Linked DNA regions of Homo sapiens: region 2 is linked to region 1. The links come from fine-mapping of genetic effects on gene expression. Tissue or cell type: whole blood. Region 1 holds a variant in brackets; the other region holds the start of a gene. All regions are shown on one strand. Distances are from middle to middle.

The links. PIP is the estimated chance that this variant, and not a neighbour inherited with it, causes the effect.
Region 2: it holds the start of DCAF15, and the variant in region 1 is fine-mapped to the expression of DCAF15 in whole blood (TOPMed, PIP above 0.99).

Annotation. Positions count from the first base shown.
Region 1 is chr19:13,884,789-13,887,542 of GRCh38, forward strand. It overlaps BRME1 (break repair meiotic recombinase recruitment factor 1), which reads right to left. Exons shown (of 9, transcript NM_001345843.2): 7 at 1,173-1,267. Among named protein-coding and RNA genes, the nearest start is that of NANOS3, 9.0 kb to the left of the region's middle. The variant C/T (reference allele first, on the strand shown) is at 1,570.
Region 2 is chr19:13,951,034-13,953,643 of GRCh38, forward strand. DCAF15 (DDB1 and CUL4 associated factor 15) reads left to right here and starts at 1,476. Exons shown (of 13, transcript NM_138353.4): 1 at 1,476-1,611. The coding sequence starts at 1,480. It also overlaps a transcript of PODNL1 not described here. RefSeq lists an enhancer at 849-898 and a silencer at 1,559-1,698.

The DNA.
Region 1 (2,754 bases):
CTCCGGGGCTGTCACTATGGAAACTGCTGTCCTGCTGCTCCTGCCTTGGTCACCCTGAGGTGTCTGGCAGCCCCTGGGTCTTAGCCTCTTGTGTGTGTCATTCAGCCTCAAGCCACCAAACCAGACCCGGGGCCCTCTGGGAGCTTCCAGACATCCAGGACGGTGGGGAGGGGAGCTGCATTGGCCCTGGGACGCTGTCGGAGATTCAGATGTGAACCCTCCCGGCTCTTCACTCAAACCACAGCGGGCCGCTCTGATGAACTGCCTCTGGTCCACGTGCAGGTTGTGTGTGTGGCTAAGGGAGGTGGCCAGTGGCACAGCAGGTACAAGTCACAGGGAGTGACGGCAGGAGGCAGGGACAGAGCCGCCCTCTGCTAGGGGAGGAGAAGGAGGAGGAGGGTGTGGGGGCCACACACAGCCAAGGGCTGAGTCCCAAACCCTCCTCCACCCCTGCCAGACAGAAACAGAAACTTGGCCATAAATAATTGATAAGCTGCCGCCTCTGCAGAGAGGCAGGTTCAAGTGCCAGGTAACAGAGAGGGCAGCCACCCAGCGCTGGCTTCGAGGAGGGCTGTGGGAGGGCACGGGAGGAGGGGACAGGCTGCGGAGACCCCGGGCATGGTGCGGGGGAGAGGGTGCCCTCCTCACACACAGCAGGCTGGAGGACGGCTCACTGGTGGCCTGTGGGAGGGAGGAGGTGGTTCGCCTAGGGCAAGAGCCAAGTGGGGAGGGGAGGAGGTGAGGGCAGGTTAGACTCACTCGGGTGCCCGCCTGGTGCCAGAGCTAGGAACAGCTCCAAGATGGTCTCAGCCAACAGTTCTGAGCCCTGTCTGGGTCCCCTCCCCTTCCCAGGGACTCAGGAGGAAGCTTTGGCCCCTCTTCCCAGAGAGAAAGAGCCCACAGAGCCGGAGGCACTGTCCCAGGGCTCCTGGGGAGCTTCTGGGTGGGGAGATGCTGGGTTGGGTGTCGATCACTGGTCACTGTCGCCCATTCTCTGCTTTCGGGGAGCAGGGGAATGTATACAGTTTGAAAGACAGGGCTCAGCTCCCCTGCTGGACTGAGGAAGTCGAGGCCCAGGGAGGGAGAACTGGGGTCTGTCTCCTCCATCTGTCACCCTCCTTGGTAAAATTTGTGAGGGTCCTGGAGCCACTTCTCACCCACGCCACACCTACCTCGGCTGGGCCTTGGCCACTGCAACAGGGTCTCCATTGGCATGTGAGCTGGGGCCCGGCCAGCAAGGGCCCGGCTTGTTCCCCGAAGGAAAGAGCTGGAAAGAGAGCACAAGGTGTGAGTGGTCGAGGCCTGGGTCGGGCAAGCTCTGCACAGGGGAACCAGAAGTCACGCTGATGCTTTTGGCTTCACCGCGGCCACAGCAGGTCACATCGGGGCTGGCTGGGACTCCTGCAGAGGAAGAGCGGTAACGGGGAGGAAATCCACGATGGGTAGACCCGAGGCTACCAGCCTGGGCTGCGCCCGTCCTTTCCCCTTGGAAAGAGAAAGGCCACAGCCAACCCTGGTGTCCGCTCCTAGGCCCGGGCCTCCCACAGGCTGATCTGGGCAGTGGGGGCA[C/T]CACTGTGCCATGATCTCTGGCCCTGACACCACTGCAGTCTCCTGCATGCCCCTCACTGTCTTTACGGGTACAGAGAAAACACAAAGCGGGGGCAACTGCGGTGAAGTGGAGTCGTCTACCTTGGCTGAATGTGCCACAGACATCCTGTTAGGAAAGGAGTTTGCAAATATAACACGAGGGGAAAACTCCCAGTGAATACAGGGGAAAGCCTGGTAACTCCACGGCGCTTAAGCTTCTAAGCGTCAATGGTGGTTTAATTTCCATGGAAAATGTTAAGCTCCGTTACAGTGGTGACCTATGATGTCCCTCAGAAAAGAGGCAATGAGCCAGGCTGGGGACACCTGTAATCCCAGCACTTTGGAAGGCTGAGGTGGGAGGATTGTTTGAGGCCAAGAGTTCCAGACCAGCCTGGGCAACACGGCGAGACCCTGTCTGTACAAAAAAAAAAAAAAAAAATTAGCTGGGCATGGTGGCACGCACCTGTGGTCCTAGCTACTTGGGAGGCTGAGGCAGGAGGATCAACTGCTTGAGCCCGGGAGGTTGAGGCTGCAGTGAGCTGTGATTGTGCCACTGCACTCCAGCCTGGGCGACAGAGCAAGGCCCTGTCTCTAAAATTTAAATTAAATGACTCCATATGCAGATTGCAGAAGCTCCATCAGTCCAAGAGTGAGTGCAAAGGATCTATGAGAAAGTAACACCAAACCCTCCCATGACGAGACCTTGGTTTGAGGTTTGAAAGCTCTGTCTCTGCTGTGTCACCTCTGAGTCCCCTCCTCTAGCACAGTGTGTGGCCACAGTGAGGTCAGGAGGAGGTGCTGAGACGGCCCGCTCGATCCATCTTTGCTGTTCCCCGTGCCCCTGCCCATGTTGGGAGACACGGGCCTCGGCCTTCCTGCCGGGAGCCACCCGGAACCTTCCCACGGGAATGTGTTCCTTGCCTGGGTCGCCTCAACTTGCTGGGGAACGCCTCGTGTCAAAGCCAAACACGCCCAGGCCCTGGCAGTGCTGTCAGGGCGGTGCCTCCTCCCCTGGCTGGGGAAAGGCTGCTAATGCTGGTCGGGTTTGACCAGCCTGGCTGTCTGTCTGGATCCCCCCAAGTCTGGATTTCAGGGTCTTTTTCCAAGCTTGCAGTTTGGCAGCCCGTTTAGGAGGGCTAGGGGCTTCACCTGCTGGATGCCACCTAG
Region 2 (2,610 bases), 66 kb after region 1:
AGCAAAACTCCATCTCAAAAAAAAAAAAAAAAAAAAAGATATGTTGTGATATTGTGTTGTGATATATTTTTAAAAAACCATATTTTGGTCTTAGGTTTTCTAGTACATAACTCCTAAAACCCTTGAAATCAGCTGGGCACAGTGGTTTATGCCTGTAATCCCAGCACTTTGGGAGGCCAAGACGGGATGATCCCTTGAGGTCAGGAGTTTTCGAGCAGCCTGGGCAACATAGTGAGACCCCATCTCTACAAAAAAAATTTTTTTAATGAAGACAATAAAAAAAAACTATCTTCTAGATTGTTCAGAGGATTAAATGGGCTGGCCAGGGGTGGGGGCTCACACCTGTCCTCCCAACACTTTGGGAAGCAGAGGTGGGAGGATCACTTGAGCCCAGGTGTTGGAGACCAGCCTGGACAACTTGGTGAAACTCCGTCCCTACAAAAAATACAAAAAATTAGGCCGGGCGCGGTGGCTTATGCCCGTAATTCCAGCACTTTGGGAGGCCTAGGCGGGCGGATCACCTGAGGTCAGGAGTTCGCAACCAGCCTGGCCAACATAGTGAAACCTCGTCTCTACTAAAAATACAAAAAATTAGGCAGGCGTGGTGGCGCACGCCTGTAGTCCTAGCTACATGAGAGGCTGAGGTGAGAGGATCATCTGAGCCCGGGGTCGAGGCTGCAGTGAACCGTGATCACGCCACTGCACTCCAGCCTGGGTGACAAAGTGAGACTCTGTCTAAAAAAATAAAATAAATGAGGTAATGTATACGAATATGATGCACGGAGCGGACCTTCAACAATTATTTTTATTGCTATGATCTGCATAATTGGCACAACAGGGCCCTGCCACATCGAACTGTTTAAGCTCAGAACCGTGTCTGTCACATGTGGAGCGATCCATGATTGATGCTATCATTATCACCACCATCATCCCACCAACCCGCCCATCGGAAACAAGCTTTCATCGAATCCCATCGTTTTTTCCTTTTTTGTAAATCTCTTTCCTCGGCCTGGCTCTGCCGCCCAAGTATGCTCGTCAGGCCTTTGCCCACCTGGACCGGGCGCGGGCAGCCCGGGGCTGAGGATTCTCGAGCCTTGGTGGACCACAGGCTCCCGTCGCCCCGCCCAAGGGCCTGGACCGCCTGTGGTCTCCATGGAAACCCGCCAGCCACAGGGGGCGTGACGCCGTTGAGACAGACAGAGATATTCACCTATCAGATCAAAGTTATCTGGGCAGGGCGAACAAACGGGACCTCCGAGTGGTACGTCCTTAAGGCGGGGCGGGAATACGGCAACGGGCCGCGGGGGCTGTTACTGTCGCTACCAATCAAGAGTCGAGATGGCTTTGATGGACAGGCATAGCGCGAGTGCGGGCTTTCGCCCAACCGGCGGGCCGCTGTCCCGAAAAAGGACCAATGAGGAGGCGGCAGGGGTGGGGCGAAGGGGCCGGTTGCTCCGGAAGTGGAGGGAGGGGGTGAAAATGGCGCCCAGCTCGAAATCGGAGCGGAACAGCGGGGCTGGGAGCGGCGGCGGCGGCCCCGGGGGAGCCGGAGGGAAGCGGGCAGCAGGGCGGCGGCGGGAGCACGTCCTCAAGCAGCTGGAGCGGGTCAAGGTGAGGCCTGGAGCCGGAGTGGGGAGCGCGCCGGAGGGTGGGGAGTAGGGACGAGGGAGGCGGAGGGAGGAGGGCGTTCGCGGGGTGAGGGGTTGGGGGCGGGGCCCCAGGGGAGGGGGCTCGGATGCAGGGCCTGGGCGGGGCCCGGGGGAGATGGCTTGGATGGAGGGGGCTCAGTTGGGGGCCTGGATGCAGGTGGTTGTGTCGGGTGACCGGCAAAGGGGCTGGGATGGAGGGGGTTGGGGGCGGGGCCCCAGGGAGGGGGCTCGGAGGGAGGCGACCCCAGAGGCCGCAGGGAGAATCAGGAGGAAGGGGGCGATCCAGGCTTTTCAAAGCTCTGCTCCCATGGTTGCTCCATAATGGAACCTTCCCGCCCCCTTTGCAGAGCCCCTGCCGCTGGCTTTGGGCTTCCTCCGCCTGATGTTCCTCTCCCTGCCCAAGCCCCGACCACACATGAGCTGGGAGTTCCAGTACCTGGGTGGGCCTCCCCATTGAAAGTGTGGGAGCTCCCTGGATAGGGCTGAGTCTTCCCCCGCAGAGTGAGAGTTACCGAAGCAGGCTCTGTCTCCTCCATCAGACTGGAAACTCCCAGAGCTGGGGGATGATGTCTCTCTCCCCCATCAGTTTGGGAGCTCTGGAGGGCAGAAATGTGGATCTCTTGCAGGTGGGCAGTAACTGGGGCAAGGCTGTGTCTCTGTGGACAGGGACTGCGCCTTCTCCGTGAGGCTGGTAGCTTTGTAAGGGCAGTGCTGTGTCTCCCCCTTTTGACTGGGAGCTCCCTGGGCTGGGACAGTCTCCGCCCTTAGCCTGGGAGCTCCCTGGGCTTGGCTGTGGTTCCGCCCTTAGCTTGGAAGCTCCTTGGGCAGGGACTGTGTCTCCCCTGTCGGCCTGGGCCTGGCTGGCCAGGCTGTTTCCTCCGTCAGACTGAGACCTCCATGTGGACAGGGCTGTCTCCCATCAGACAGGGAGCTTCCCAGACAGGACTCTTCCCATCAGATT